Regions from separate parts of the Homo sapiens genome. Here region 1 is linked to region 2. Evidence: fine-mapped expression QTL. A gene starts in region 2. The other region holds a variant in brackets. All regions are shown on one strand. Distances are between the middles of the regions. Region 1 overlaps ANO2 (anoctamin 2). Region 2 holds the start of PIANP (PILR alpha associated neural protein).

Region 1 (8,329 bases), 900 kb before region 2:
CACTTCACAGGGTTGCTGTGAGGCACAGAGGTCACAGACAGAAAATGCATACAGTGGATTGATTTACAGTAATACAATATGATTATACTATATTTGTCAAAGCTCTTAAGCTAAGGAACCATATGAAATTCCACCACTTTAATGAATGTTATAATTTCCCCCACAGGGAGTCAATAAATTCGTATTTATTTAACTACAGCCATTTATTTTATTTGTATTATATTGTAATAGAAATAATTATTGTAATATAAATAAATGTATAAATACATTTATTTGTATTTATTTAGACCTACAGCCATCATCACAGTATTTGCACAGCTCTTCATCTGAATCCTCCCAGTAATACTGTGGGCAGGTAGCACAGGTGCTATCACCCCTATTTCATAGCTGAGAAAACTGAGGCTCAAGAGAGAATGACTTGCCCAAATATTACATCAACTGGAAACAAATCTGGAGGTAAAACTGAGTTCTTTTCACTCTTAACTCACTGCTCCTGGTCTAAAGGAATGTCCCCGGGCAGGTGCGTCAGGGTCTGATGAACACATACACAGGCACATTACCCATCTTTTGACTGTCAGCCTCACTCCTTCTCCATTTTGTTCTGAGAATAGGGAACTCTTCCTTGTTTAAGTCCGACTTTATAAAGACGCCTCTCCAAATCCTTGATCACATTACTTTTCCTTCTGTGAAACAGTTCCAGCCTGGTTATGTTTTCTTTAGGTGTGATGACCTAAGTCAGCCACATGTGAGGTTTTACCATGATTCAGTAAATCACTGAGTGATGCAATCCTAGCTTGGTTTTAAAATGTATTCTGAGAATTCGAGGGGTCTGTGGTGCTGCATCACATCACACTGATGTTTCTAGAAAGAGTTACAATCATCCCCAAAGATCTCTGCCTGATGCATAGCTGATACCTCTGAGCCCATCACAAATGGCTAGTCGAAGGCCAATTTTCCCTCGTGATCTTTTCCATATGTTGTTTTCCTACAGCCTCACAGCTACTTTCTATAAATTTTCTCCATCAGCCTGTCCCTTTATTTCCCAGAAAACCCAGTGGTCATCTGCAAGCATGGAGATTCCACTTTGAACTCAAGCTCCTTGAGAGTGGGGTCATGCTTACATCATCTCCGTATCCCCAGGACCAGTGTCTGGATAATGCAAAATATGTGGTGGCTTAACTGCTTCAGTGAGGTGTATGTAAGGCTCCTCCTCTTCCAAGTTACCCCACCAGTGAGTCCCAAGAAGGACAATCACGATGATAAGGCTGTGTGGGGAACACACGTTGATATGGAAACGCAGAAAGTCCTAGGAGTATTTGGGGTGTGGGAAAGAAAGCTTAGGTATATGAGCACTGTTGTTGACACAATTGTTGTTTTCAAATATTTAAAGGGTTGACCTATACAACAGGGTATACTTGTTCTGTGCAGCTCCAGGAAGCAGAACTAAGACCAAAATAAGGGAAATCAGCAGTTTTCCTTCTAGTTTCATGACTTCCTATGGGCTAGATATGCCCAAGACAGAAACAAACTGTCCCAGAGATAAGGTGCTCCCTATTCCAAGAAAAATCAAGCAGAGGCTGGGCATTTGCTAGATGAATATGCCGCAAGAAAAATTCTTCATTCCTTCCTTCCAGGGACAGCTATCCAACTGTCTGGCCTCTAAGCTTCATTTGCCTCTGTGAGGCTATGGTTTGTTCCTAGAGGTTCTGGATAATTGAAAGCTTATTGTACAACAGGGCCAAGACAGCACAAACATATAGCTTGTCATATTTTTCAGACTAATATCAGCTTTTCCTCCCTGGGGCATGACATAAGCTGATCAAGGAGGCAATGAGCTGATGCCAGACAGCTCCTTCCTTCCCCAGCTCTGCCCTGGAATTCCAGGTGGCCATGGGGAACTTGTGGAGCCTCTTGGTGCCTTGGGATCCACCATCCATACCATGTGGCTGATAAGACAGGAAGGAGGATGAAAAGTTTAAAACAGGAGCCACCATCTCTGGAAGGCTGTTGTGAGGCTAGGAGGCCACCCTCAGAAGACCAACACAGTCATTAGCTGCTACCTTGAACTGGAGCTGGTAGCATTTTGAACTGGAGCTGGTAGCATTGTACTCCAACTCCTGTTTCCATTGGTCAACCACAAGACCAACAGCCTTCCCTCCGAAAGGGTACAACTGGAGGAGAGTGGCACTCCATGGAGGAAATGAGAGAAAGGAGACTGGGGCAGAGCCTTTCCACAGCATGATGGGATTAACAGCATGACTTATATCCTGATCTATAAAATGGACCAGAATGTAATGGCATGGAACATAATCATCCTTGTTTCTGCCTCACCTCAACCAGCTGTTGCTGCTTTTCTCTGTCTACCCTTCTCTCACACCCTCAGAGGTAAAGGAAGAATAGACTTCAGGCCTATGAGGTATTATTTCCTTCCAGGCTGCAAAATGTTTTCCAGCTAAACCCAACCATCAAATGATAAGACCCGTGCAAATGCCATGGTGCTGATCCCACGTGTCATCTCTCCTTAGCTTCCCTTCATGCATCCAGCCTCATTTCCTTCCAACCCTGGATTGCCTGCTAATTCGTGGGGCAGAGCAAGGGACTTGGGCCAGGTTGGCAGGGAATCCTTACAGACAAGGTCTGCAAGCCAAGTTCTTGATCTCACCACTCCCAGTCAACAGTGAGGAAAGATCTGGCTTTGAGTCAATGTGATTTTCAGTCATTAGTATCAGGCTAAACTATAAATCCTTATACAGGGCAGTCCAGGCTGGTTACAAAGACACACTCTTTCACCTCAGTCGTCCTTCAGAAAGCAACATTTCTGATTCAAGGGCCACCTCTTCCAGGAAGTCTTGTCTTATTCCTCTAGCAGCAATTACTCTTCAAATGTGATCCCATACTGATAGGTTTGAACATTATTATAGTCCTGAGAGCCCTCGCTATATCCGGTCTTGCACACATTTGTCTCCCTACATAACTCCTAGATCTTAAAGGCCATAAGCTCTCCCTTCATCGTTGTTGTGCCTCCCCATACTGCCAAGCAAAGAGACTTGCTCACTGTAAGCATCAGTGAATGTGTATTGTGTCGAGCTGAATTGCCTTTCTCAATCCCAAAGAAAAATCAAGGAGAAAGCAGCAGGGCTAAGGAAATAAGTAATCACAGATTGATCAACGTTTTTCTCTCTCCAGTTCCTCCTCTAACCCAGCTGTGGCCTGGCCAGTCCTTCCCCAGCCTGGCCTGCTGAGAAGCCTCCTAAGAACATGGCTTCCTCGGTCTCCCTCCGGGGGTGCTCAGATGGCTCACAGTTCAGGAGGGTGGAAGCAGAGCCCAGAGACAAGGAGGGATGGATCAAACCACACAGTCTCTGGTGGCAGTGCTGGGGAACCCTGGCAAGGACGGTGACCTGTGCCTTGCAGTAGGAGGGAGATCCCATTCGTGGCATGTCAGGCTAGAGAGGGCTGGTAGAGATGTGTAGCAACGTTGGGGCACAGTGCCACCCAAGGGCTCTTGAAATGGTAACCCCATAGAGATCACTCTCAGATCCTCGTGGAAGCTGTTCCATATCTCAAGGCTCTAAGCTGGCACATTTCTAAGAGAACTCCAGAGCTTCCACATGGGTGGGCTTCATGCCCAGGGCCTGACTTTAAGTGCAGGAAGCCTCACTCATGAAGTGAGCACCCCAGGAACAGGTGGGAGTGAGTAGGGACCATTACCCCTCTTCAGACTGCAGGCCTGGTTTGGTACAGTGAAGCTCCCCATCCATTATCCCCTTGGTGAACTCCCACAAGTCAACAGGCTGCAATCCCTCTGAGCTGAGTACAGTTCTAGAACCCTCTCTTTCCCATGCTGTCACAGGCAGGCAGTGGCAGCTGCTTTAGAATAAACTTTTTGTACATTAGTTTCAGCAGAGTATAGTCAGAAGAGAAATCAAACTCAGAAGATGCTTAAGACCTATTGTTTTGTCTCATTCATATCAAAACGTCCAAGCTAAGAAAATCAGCCTGGGAGCAGATATTAACTTTAGTAAAAAGACAGATTACGGCCCTGACTAGTATTGGGTCAGACCTGTACAAATCGAAAAGGCCTCCAGTCCCCAAGTTTTCCCAGAAAATAAGGGCTGTTTTCCTCCTGGGTTTTAGAGCATTGAACCAGAGAAGTGCAGGCAGAAATGTCCTTCTCCAGCTGTGAGGACCCTCTTCCAGCTCCCTAAAGGACTAGAAGAGTCATTTCACTCTAGCTTAGGAGTCATTCCTCATATTATCAGCCACAAGCCATGTTTCTGACAAGGCACAAGTGCTGCTGGCTGGAAGTGCCCAGGAGGTCTTCTGGATTGGGGTGCACTCACTCATCGAGGTTCCTGCTGGATACCTCTCTAGGGAACTTTCCAGAGAGCTCTCACACACACACTCACACACACACAGTCACACAATCGCTCATTCATACACACTCATGCACACACTCTCTCACATACACTCACACTCTCACACTGACACACATGAACACACTCATACCCACTCACACACATACACTCACACCGACACACGCATGCACACACACTCATTCACACGCTCATACACATACACTCCCTGCTCACACTCACACACTCATGCACGCTCACACTCTCACACACACCCTCACATATACACTCTCCCAAACACACATATTCTCTGGCACACACACACACTCTCATACTCTTACACTCACACACATGCACTCACACACACACCCACTCTTGCACATACACACACACAAACTCACAACACACAGAGACACACTCTCACACGAACACATTCTCACACTCACACACACTAACACACACAAACACTCTCATACAGGCTCACACACACACTCAGGCCTGCAGGCCCCAGGTCTCCAGAGCAGAGGCAGGATCGGGAGGAGAGCCGTGCGGGGCTGGAGGCCATCAGCAGTCTCACAGTGCAGCCTGCTGGGCACGAACGACACTGCAGCCGGGTGGAG[G/A]CAGGGGCCAGGGGTGCAGGGAAGGGTGTCTTGCCTCCCCTCTGTGGACTTTCAACATCCAGGAACGGTGTCTCAAACCCCAAGACTCAAAATGAGGCCTGAAGGCCTGCGGAAGGGGAAGGAGAGCTAGTTCCGGGGCCTTCCACATACAAACAGGTCTCCTGCCCCATGAGCTCTCAATGGCTCACACAGAGGTTTTAGAATCTTCCAAACAATTGGCACAGAGGAGGAGCACTAGGGCTCCAGAGGAGGAACAGAAGCTTGGCGCTAAAAATGAGGAGCTGAAAACCCAAAGAAACGGGTGGGAAAGACCTTGGCCAGGCCTGTGCATGAATTATCACGTTCCGCCTGTGCCAGATTCCCCTGCTCCGTCACTCTTCCAGCACAGACCATATGAGGGCAACTTCTCCGCGAGGCACACGGAGGGTGCCATGCATGGTAGTAAGTAGTCATGGAGCAAAACTGTCATGGTGTGGGGCCTGTGATGGCTCAGGAAGGGAACCACAGGCTGGACTCTGCAGGCAGGTGGGCCCCGACAGGAGGTGGGAGGAATGATGGAGAGGAAGTGGCAAAAGAGAGAAATGGTGCTGAAGAAGAATCCCCAAGACTCACAGTTAGATTGGGGAGTGGGAAGTGAAAGTGACGCCAGTCAGGGATTACTGAGGTCTCGGGTTGTGTCATGATGAAGAAGAGGAAGGAGAGGACTTGGACAGAATCAGGGAAAGCAAGTTGGGACCATTTGGTAAAAGAGTGTAAAATGAGGAGTTTGGTGTGCTCACTGAGTCTAAGTAGCTGCTCCCTGCATGCTCCAGCCCACATTTCTCTCTACAAGTTCTCCAGGTACTCGCCCACTTCTGACCCTAGTGCTCCCCACCACCAGCCCTTCCATCACTTCTCTTTCCAGCAGTTTCTTGAGGTCAGAGAGTTCCTTATGCCACTGGGATGACAACCACCATCACCATCTGCCTTGGCTCCCCACACACATGCTGCCCAGCGTCCCATTCTCCTGAGGCTCCTTCCTCCTCTCCCTCCTGACCAAGACTTGGCTTTGCCCAGGGACCGTGGGAGTGTTCCAGGCCATCTGATCTGTGAGGAGCTGTAGACAGCCTCCGGCCCTGCTCCAGTACACCGTGCCCTGTCTAGACAGATTTGAGCTCTCCATCCTCAGGAACCGCCAGGCCCCAGAGCAGGGCTCCGCTCCAAAGGCAATACTTCCCCTGCAGGTGAGGCTGCTTTGGTGGCCAAAACCGAGTGCATATTGGAGCCATTTGCCACTTAGCTGGCAGCGAGTCACCTGAAGTCTCTGCGGGAAAAGATAGGGCTCTCTGGTAGGGAGAATTTTTATTTTTTAATCGTACTTAAAAAAAACAAAAACAAATGAGTAGTTGGAGAAAACAGGCGACAGAGTGGGTGGCCACTTGAGATCCAGAGAGAAAGATCAAAGCCCACCAAGAATGGAATGATCAGCCTTGGGGTGGCCCAGAGAACAGTCTAGGTGGCCCATGCCACATGAAAGGCAGCCAGGGGACGGGAGACAGGGTGAAGGCACCTGGTCACAGGCCCCGCATGTCCCTGCTCCCCCACCCAAGACCTTGGTTCACGGTCCTCAGCTGGAACAAACACCTGCTTCCAAGAGACATCCAACCAAGCTCTGTCCGCTGGGAGGGCCGCTGCATCTCTGTGTAGGAGGTGAGCTGCCCAAACTCTGGCCTCCACGCGGCTTTCTCTTTCCAAGCAGAAGCTGGAATTCCTCCCTCTAGACTCGATTCTCCTGGCCGCTGCCCCTCTCACAATCCCAGCCCAGGGCAACCAGCCAGGAACACGCTCTATTCTCAGGCTGATGAATTAGCTCATTAGGTGACTTCAGGGCAGTGAGTCCACCATGTCCACCATGGAGCAGCCTCCTCCTGCAGGCTCCAGCGGCCCATCTTTTCCAAATGAGCACATTCTACCATGTGAACTCACAGATCCCTCAGCTCAGCCTCCCAAGTTAGGACAACCAGGACCCTGAAGATCAAAGAGGAATTGGGGCTTGCCCAAAGAAATGGTAGCACTTAGTGGCCAGGCCCAGACCAGAACTCACGTCTCCAGACTCTCAGCCCAGTGCTGTCACACAGTGCTGCCGCCCAACATTCCAGCCAGAAGATTGAGTTTCTAGAGCCCTGAAGCCATTTTAAACTAGTCAGACCTATGACATTCCAGTAAGTTATTTCCAAGGACTTTTCACTAATGTTCAACAGAAGCTGGGGAAATGTCCAAGGTGCCAGAAAACAGGACATCATTCTGTGACAACACAGAAGGGAGGAAACCCAGGGCCTAGTCTCTCCTCCCTTCTAATTTGGAAAAGCCATAAAAAGTCCACATTCTGTCAGGCCAACCAGCATATTCCTCATGTGATTTGCTAAATCCACCCTTTCCTGGATCAACACTGGCACTTGGGCATAACCCAACAATCAGCTTCATCCAGGTTCTTCTCTAGGACAAGACTAAGGAAAAGAAATGAGACAGCTCCATGCACCCCTCCCAGAGAACAGGCAGGGAAAGAGACCAATGTTGAAGACCTCAAGGTGCAGGTCATGGTCTATCAATCTACAGTATCTTTTGCCCCACGCAGCCTCCATGTCCCTCCCATGTCCCCAGCTGCTTCCCCACCCATGAGACACAGAGGAGTGGATCATAGAAGCTAGAAAAGAAGATCCCTCCACTTGAGCAAAGGACTGTCAGAGTCAAAAGGTTTATGATACATCTTTCAGGACTTGCATCTCCAGGATACTTCCAAAAGTTCCCTACCACCTCTTACCTGATGAGGTCAATAGGTTGGAACTTATAGAACACTCCATAGCGCGCCCATTCTTGATATAGCAGCTAAACAAAGAAAATAAGGAAACAGGTTAGAGGTAGAGATGGGAAACTTCACCTGATTTTGTCCATCCTAACAAGTCAGATTTTTATCCCCAAAGTCCAGCTTCTAAGAAATTCTCATGAGACATCCAGGGGGAGATGTTCAGAATCGGGAGGCTATGGAAACTGGCTTCTCCTTCCTCAAACAACAGAGATGAACTTTATCACACTCTGAGGCAGTCCTGCACCTGATTAGCAGAACCCCGTCTTCTTTATTCCCACGTCTTGCCTAGTCCAGCAAAATGAGCCCTAATGTTCATGATTCACTCATTTAACAAGTATTTATTGACATCTCCTTATGTGCCAGGCACTGTCCCCACACTGGATACAGCAGTAAGCCACAGTCTGCTTACACCCTGGTGTGGAGAGATAAACATAAACATATAAACAGATAAGATTTTGAAATCTTAATGAAGAAAAATTAATCAAGGTCAGGGAGTAGAATGTGAAGGA
Region 2 (8,329 bases):
GCCCTCCCTTATCCTTGTATTTCCCTGGGAGACAGAATCTGCCCTGATTTCTCACCGTCTTCCCCCAGCCAAATCCTTAATTATCTTTTCCCAAGGTCTTGCCTTCATCCAGCATTTCCCACCCACCCCCCAGCAAAATTGCTGCCACTGCCCCTCGTGGTTAGAGCCTCGACTGCCAAACATTCCGTCCCCATCCACCAGCACCTTCCTCCTCCCAGCTTACCAGAACTTGAAGATGATGCCAGTGGCCACGAGAACAATGATGATGGAGATGGTAATTGTGACATAGAGCTGGGGGTCCACACCTGATTGGGGTGGGAAGAAAGTTTTAGGGAGCCCCGAGGTGGTAGGAGCCAAGAGGGGCTGGGGGCTGGGCTGTGGGCTCTGTCGGCTGGAGTGGCATTGCTGTGTGGATCCACACTGCCGGCTCTGTCTGCCCCTCTGGAGCCTCACTCTTTATTATCACCAGCATTCCCCTGAGTTTTCAGCTCTTTTCCTCCACTTTCCCAAATGTATTTCACCAAATCTTATGTGTATATGTGATGAGGATGAGGCCCCATGATCAGCGAGAACCTATCACTATGCCTGGAAACTAAGGGGTGGAGATGTCCTAGTCTCTGCCATGGCCCAACTCCCAAACCACAGGCCCTGTTCCTCCATCAGCACTCCCTGAGCCAAGACATCTCCCGGGTAGTGCCCTTCATTCATGGCATTCTCTGCCCAGAATACTCCCACTCTCTTTTCAAGGGCCAGCTCAAATGTCAGTTCTCTGAAGGTGTCCTGATCCCCAAGCAGGAGGAGACTCTCACTTCTCTTTTTTTGTAAATCATGCTGCACATGCCTCTATTAAAGCATTTATTACGATGACTCCTCTCCAAGTCCTTTCATGTCTGTCTGCTCCAGTGGACCTGAACTCCGAGAGGGTGTCTTTATCTCTGCATCCTGTGCCAGTATAGTGCCTGACACATTTGTTGAAGGAGCTAACAGACAAGGCCTCTATTTCTGCCCCTTGGTGTCTTCACCCAGCCTCCCCATCCGTCATATCCCTCCCAGCCTTTCCCACTCACCTTCCCCACGGCCCCCGAACAGGAATGGCCGCAGGGTGGCAGGTGCCTCTCCAAGGATAAGCCCATCTCCATCACCTCGCATGGAGTCTGAGTTGGGGTGTGGGGTTGCGAGCCCATGAGGGGCTGCAAAACCATAGTCCAGAAATCCGGGATTGGCAGAGTTGGGGTCCCCTCCATCCTCTCGAGACACGGTGGGACCCCACACGATAGCCCAGGGGTATTGGGATGAGGGCGGCCCCTCCTCAAAGCCTGATGGGGTGGCTGGGGGTGCAGTGCCAGGCAGGACTTGCCGACGTGATCTTGGGACCCGAGGAGATCGGCTTGGTGGAGGTGCTCGCTCCCACACGCACACATGACGTGGGGCCGAGGGGCCTCCCCTGGCACACGGGGGGCGGGCTGGGGCTGGTGGGGTTCGAGGGGAGGATGAAGAGCCCTGAGCAGGCGGTGGGAGGGGCAGCAACAGCAGTGGCCAGAGAGGGAGGAGGTGGGACAGCAGCAGCGCAGGCCTGCAAGAAGGGAGAGAGCGTGGCTGAGACACAGGCCTACTGTGGGCCTATGTGAGGGAGGGACAGGTTCACACCAGAAACCTCCAGGTTTCCCTGTGAAAGCAGGTGGGCCTTGGGAAGACTCGCCTCATTTCCCATCTTCCAAAGGAGGATGGCCCTCAGGATGGGAAGGCTCTGGATGGGTCTAGGAAGGAAGGAGTCATGGCCCCAGGGAATGTGGTCTCCAGGCTCCCTCTGCTGGGCCAAACTTACCACATCCTGGACTCCATGTCTGAGGTCTTCCTCAGCTGTGACCCAGATTTTCAGCCTTTACTGGGAGAAAAAGGGGGCCGTCACACCCCAGCCCTGCCCTGTGTACTTCCCCAGCTAATTCATCCACCAATTCTACCCGCATCTGCCCTCCCAGGCCACCCAGCTGCCAGCTATGCGGCTGCACCCAGGATTCACTGGTTGTTAGCATCCTTTTGGGGGAAAAACTCCAGCGTGGTTGCCTGACCAGACTCCAGCCCCATCTACAACTTCTCAGGTCCCTGTTACCTCTCCACCCCAGGGTCTACTCTGGCTTCTCTGATTTCCCTTCTTCTCACTTCCTCTGCCCACAGCTCCAGGCTTTTCTTGGATCTTAATTTAGAGCCAAGAACCTTGTGATTCCTTGAGCACCTACCGCTAGGGAGGGAGTCTGAGGGTAGGGGGAGGGATGGGGAAGTCAATCTGAGCAAGCCAGTGAGTGTGTGTACGTGCAGGGGGGCCCTTCCAGCCCTCCCAGCCCTCCCACCCCTCTGGCAGTGCCAGGCATTTGTCTTATGATTAGCCCCAGGAGTCTGCATCTTCAGGAGAAAGGAATGAAGAGCTGGAGGGATGGAAGGAAAGAGACAGAAAGAGAGAGGTGAGTGGGAGAAAAACTACAGAATATAATTTTTGCTCTTAATGTTTAATCATCCAAGTGCATAGGTGCCCTCTGAAGGGAGGTGGAGTCAGGAAGAAACCACCCCCTCAAATGTGGCTCTCCTGGGTAAAGAATCCTGGGAAAATCGGGATGGTTGGTTTTGAAAGAGAAAGGGTGTGTTCTCAGAGCTGAGGGTGGTGGATCCAGGAGGGGCAGGCTCCCCAGAGGGAGTGAAGATAGGATACCCGTTTCCTGTGGATTCTGGGTCTAAATCTGCCCAATGGGCCAGACGCAGTGGCTCACGCCTGTAATCCTAGCACTTTGGGAAGCCAAGGCGGGTGGATCACCTGAGATCAGGAGTTCGAGACTAGCTTGGCCAACATAGTGAAACCCCGTGTCTACTAAAAATACAAAAATTAGCCGGGGGTAGTGGTGGGCGCCTGCAATCCCAGCTATTCAGAGGGCTGAGGCAGAAGAATCCCTTGAACCTGGGAGGCGGAGGTTGCAGTGAGCTGAGATCACACCATTGCACTCCAGTCTGGGCAACAAGAGCGAGACTCCGACTCAAAAAATAAAATAAATAAATCTGCCCATTGAATCTTCCCAGAGAACAACAAGGGAACAAGATGGGAAAGTCACGGGAAGGGCGTGGGGAAGCAGGCAGTGGGAGAGATGGGAAGGGGTGAAGGGCTGGGAGATGGAAGGCTGGTTAAGAGTGAGAGAGGAGAAATGTGAAGAGGAAGCTGGCCTGGAGTGCAGGGTGAGAGAGAGCAGGCAGTCCTGAAAAAGAGAGAACTGGGAAGAGAGGAGGAGAGTGGGTACAGAAGACTCGAACTGTGGAGGATGCCGAAGGGAGGAAAGGATGAGAGAAAAGGTCAGGGAGGGGAAACGGAGAGGATGAAGGGGTCACAGGTGCAGGGGAAGAAGGGGCAGGAGGAGAAGGAGAGAGCGGTCCAGGCAGGACAGCCAGAGGAGTGGAGAGTAAGGGGATGGGAGAAAAGGGGGGAAAGCCCAGGATGGGGAGAAAGGAAGTGGGGAAGGAGAGAACATAAATGCTTAAGGAAAAATGACACGAGGAACGGGCTGGGAAGCAGAGGCGGGAGCAGCAAAGATGGAGGAGTTCGGAATTGCTCCCCCAAATGTAAAGGGATGTGGAGATACCGAAAGACATAGGGATGGGGGCATGGTGGGAAGAAGGGAGAGAGAGGGGAAAGGAAGAAAGCTAGAGGGAGGGAGCGAGGCGTGTAGAGCGAACCAGTGAAGCGGAGAAGGGCTCCCAGGGCGCATCTGTGGCCAGCTGACTCTAGGACTATCGCCCCTCCGCCTGTGCATCCCCACCCCCAGCCAGCGCCAACCCAGTCCCTGGGCCCCGCACAGCTTCAGCCGCCCCCTCCAGGAAGCCCGCAGTCCCCGGGCTGGCGCGCCACCCCCACCCCTCTCCCAGCTTCTCACCGACCTGTTGTGCGCAGGAGACGAGCTGGGGGTGGGGCAGGAGCCTCGGGGTGCGGGAGCCGGGCCCCAGCCCCAGCGTGGCCCCCATCCCACCCATCCCGCAGGCCCGCACTCCCCGCACAGGGCTGGAGAGCGGCGAGAGTGGGGGGAGACGAGGAAAAGGAGGTCGGCGAAGGGACCCCGAGGCAGGGAGTGCCGAGAGCGGACTGGGGACCCGAAGCAGGAGACTGCGCGGAGCCGCCCGCCGAGCCGAGGCGGGATGGAGGCAGCCGCGGGGACGGGGACGGCTGCGCCAGGGAGGGCGGGAGCGAGCCAGGACCGCGGAGGGATGGAGAGCCCTTCGGGGAAGGGGCGCTGGGAGGCTGGAGGCCTTGTCCCGGGCGAGGGACCGCGTCGGGAGGGGCAGGAGGCGCAGGGCGCGGAGCCGGGAAGGGCAGGGCCGGGCTCCCCGCGGGTGGGGGCGTGGGGGTCCCTCTCACTCACCTGCATGCTTGGCGCGGCGGCGCGACGACTGCGGGCGCTCGGGACTGAGCGGGGCTGGGGGGTCGCAGGAGCGGGCGGGGTGCGGGGCATGGTGGGGAGGTTTGGCCCGCGGCAGGGCGCTGGAGCGGGTGGGGGGCGGGCGCCTGGGGCGCGGGGCGGCGGCGGTGGGAGATGCTCGCCTCGGCTCGGCTCGGCTCGGCTCGGCTGGGCTCGGCGCGGCGGCTGGGACCGCTCCGTCTCCGTCTCCGCCTCCCCCCCGCGCCGGAGGCCACGCACGGTTTAACCCTCCTGCTGCCGCGCTGCAGGAGTCAAGCCAGGCTATGTCCCAGGTGGAGGGCTGAAGAGGCTGGCAGGGTCCAGCGACCGTCCGCTTCCCTGGGTTCTGATGGCAGTCTCCCCACCTCCTTCACCCCAACTCCAGGGACACCCATGGTCGCCTCAGTCAGTTTCTGAGATTCTGAGTCACTCAATGCTCTGCATTCCCAACTTTGTTCTTTTGTATTGTGTTTTGTAGAGATGAGGTCTCGCTGTGTTGCCCAGCCCGGTCTCGAACGCCTGGGCTCAAGCGATCCTTCCCGCTCAGCTTCCCGGAGTGCTGGGATTACAGGCGTGAGTCACCACTGCCTGTCCCCCAACTTGGTTTTGCCCGCTGTAGAAAGTGCCTGAGGTCAAGGCTGGGGGCAAGGGGTGGAGGAAAGGACTGGGGAGGAAGGACCTTGCACCATCTTTGGATTATCCCCACAGCTTGATCCCCTATTTCACTCTGGCCCTGCTACCATGCATTAAGTGGATCACGTCGAAATTCCTGGGCTTTTCCAGCACTGGAATACCTAGACTCCGTGCTGTGACTTACAAGACCCTATATAACCTGGCTCTTAGGTGGCTCTCTGATTGCCTTTCCTAAAGATTTCTATGCTTCAGCCACATGGGACCTGGTGGATTTCCTGGTTGGAGACAGGTTTAACCTGCCTCAGGGCCTTTGCACTTGCTGTTCCCTCAGTAATACATTTCCCTGGCTTTTCACAATGACTTACTGTTTTCATTCCAGTCTCACTTAGATCCAACGCCTTCTGGGAGGCCTTCCCTAATGTCTCTATCAAAAGTAGCCTCTCCTGCCCCTTCTCCCACCACCTGGATCCCATCCCTCTCTACCACACTACGCTGTTTTTCCTCAGGGCACTTCCAGGACACCACACTCTCCTCATTTCCCTCCAACCTCACTGACTGTTCTTAGTCTTCCTCGGGTGACCTCTAAATGTTGGAGCCTCCTAGGGCTTAGTCCTTGGCCATTCTCTCTTTCCACATTCTCTGTCCAGTGATCTCATCCGGTCCCAGGGCTTAAATACTATGTAAATGTCAGTGAGTCCTAAATTTATATCCAGAGCGCCAGACTCATTTATCCGACAGCCTACTTGACATCTCCACTTGGATGTCTAATAGCCATGCAAAGCTAACTTGACTAAAATAGATGTCTTGAATTCCCCCACCCCCAATCCATTTTTCTCCCAGTGATCCCCATCCTGAGGCTTCACAACTACTAGTTGTTCAGGCTAAAAATCTAGGAAACATCCCTCCCTTCCCCTTTTTTTCACTGATTCTCTCCCTGTATCTAATTCACCAACAAGTCCTGTGGGCTCTGCGTCCAAAATATATCCCGAATTCATCTCCTTCTATCTTTATTGCTATAGTCTTGGTCTAAGCCATCATGTCTCATCCAGATTATCATAATAGCTTCCTCACTGGTCCCTGCTTCTGCCCTTGTCTTTACAAACTAGTTTTTCCTATATTGATAATATTTTAAAAATCAAAAGCATGTCATGCTCTTCTCTGCTTAAAATATTCGAGTGGTTTTTCATTACACTTGGAATAAATCTGAACTCCTTGTAAGGAGAAGCCCACCAGCCTGTACCCACCTCATACACAGTGCTCCTGCTGGATCAGACTACTTGCTGTTCTGTAACATCAGAAGTCATTCTCTTAGCATCCCTGCACTTTTTTTTTTTCTCGAGACAGTGTGTCTCTCTGTTGCCCAGGCTGGAGTGCAATGGCACGATCTCAGTTTACTGCAACCTCCGCCTCCCAGGGTCAAGCAATTCTCCTGCCTCAGCTTCCCAAGTAGCTAGCGTGTGCATGCAGGGGGGCCCTTCCAGCCTTCCCAGCCCTCCCACCCCTCTGGCAGTGCCCACTAGTGCCCTGCTAATTTTTGTATTTTTTGTAGAGACAGGGTTTCACCATGTTGGCCAGGCTAGTCTTGAACTCCTGACCTCAAATGATCCACCAGCCTTGGCCTCACGAAGTTCTGAGATTACAGGCGTGAGCCACTGCGCCCGGCCCCTCCACTTTTGATTCCCTCTTCCTGGAATGTTTTGCCACCCCTCTCCCCATCTTCACCTGGTTGGCTCCTTCATCCCTGCTCAAAATCTAAAGTGGCCCCCACTCTGTTTCCTCATTATGTTTCATTGTCTTTCCAACTCATCACTTTCTATTTGTTTATTTATTTATTGAGATGGAGTTTTGCTCTCGCAGCCCAGGCTGGAGTGCGATGGTGCAATCTTGGCTCACCGCAACCTCTGCCTCCTGGGTTCAAGCGATTCTCCTGCCTCAGCCTCCCAAATAGCTGGGATTACAGGTGCACACCACCATGCCTGGCTAATTTTTGTAATTTTAGTGGAGACGGGGTTTCACCATGTTGGCCAGGCTGGTCTCGAACTCCTGACCTCAGGTGATCCTCCCACCTCGGCCTCCCAAAGTGCTGGGATTACAGGCGTGAGCCGCCACGCCTGGCCCGACTCATCACTTTCTGAAATGATCATATATGTGTTTACTATTTACTGTCTGCTCTCTCCTGCCCCCCTATACATTAGAGAGCCAAGATCTTATTTGTCTTGTTTACCGTGTATCCCTACTCCTACTGCAGTGCCTTGGAATGTAGTAGATGCTCAACATGTACCACTTAATGAACTTCTTCTGGGACCCCTGCCCACTCTGAACTCTTTTAATTCTCTCCTCTGCTGTCCTCCAGCCATTCCTCTCTAGCTGCCTGCCCCCTACTGATCTCTGCCCTACGCCAAATGCTTCAGGTTGAGCCCTTGCTCATGTCCACACCCCTTCAGATCCTCCTCCTTCATTTGCTGCATTGTGACCCGTTGTCAGCCTGGCGCTCCTGCCTCGTGAAAGGAAGGAAGCCTGCTGTTCTGACGAGCATCTGCAGCAGCTGCCCTCTTGCTTGCGTGTCCCTGACAGCCCTTCATTTGAGGTCAGAACAGCAGCGAGTGAGCCGTCCTCCTAGTGTCTCCCAGTGGTGGGGGAAAGACAAGGCACACTGGATGTGAACCCGGCCAAGGGGCCATGTGAGTCAGGTGCGCAACTCCTGCCACCTCCTGGGCCCCTTAAGCCCCAGAGCATCCTGAGGATATGCTCCAGGTGAACTCATGTCACTGGCATGGACCAAGTTTATCAAGTGAATATTCATGTTCAGTGTAAGTGCCTTTGACACTGAGGACCTTGGGTCATTAATTATTTCTATTATTCTTGATTCATTCATTCTTTCCACATTTTTTTTTTTTTTGAAACAGGGTCTCACTCTGTTGCCCAGGCTGGAGTGTAGTGGCACAATCATGGCTCACTGCAGCCTTGACCTCCTGGCTCAAGCAATCCTCCCACCTCAGCCCCCAAGTATCTGGGACTACATGTGTGTGCCACCATGCCAGGCTAATTTGTGGTGGTGGTTGTTTTTTTTTGTTTTTTGTTTTTGTTTTTTTTTTTTGGCAGAGATGAGATTTTGCCACGTTGTCCAGGCTGGTCATACAAATATGGTCATTTAAATGGTGTGACACGCCAGGTACCGTGCCATGGCTGGGGATACAGCGGAGAGCAAGAATGAAGTCATCACTGTCTTGGTGGAGCTTACAGTCTGGTAGGGAGACAGTGCAGTG

Evidence for each region.
Region 1: its variant is fine-mapped to the expression of PIANP in ovary (GTEx, PIP above 0.99).

Annotation. Positions count from the first base shown.
Region 1 is chr12:5,791,732-5,800,060 of GRCh38, forward strand. ANO2 (anoctamin 2) reads right to left here. Exons shown (of 25, transcript NM_001364791.2): 10 at 7,776-7,840. Among named protein-coding and RNA genes, the nearest start is that of ANO2, 150 kb to the right of the region's middle. The variant G/A (reference allele first, on the strand shown) is at 4,976.
Region 2 is chr12:6,696,220-6,704,548 of GRCh38, forward strand. PIANP (PILR alpha associated neural protein) reads right to left here and starts at 4,596. Exons shown (of 5, transcript NM_001244014.2): 1 at 4,395-4,596; 2 at 1,826-1,885; 3 at 1,068-1,573; 4 at 224-305. The coding sequence starts at 1,842. RefSeq lists enhancers at 563-672, 3,376-3,877.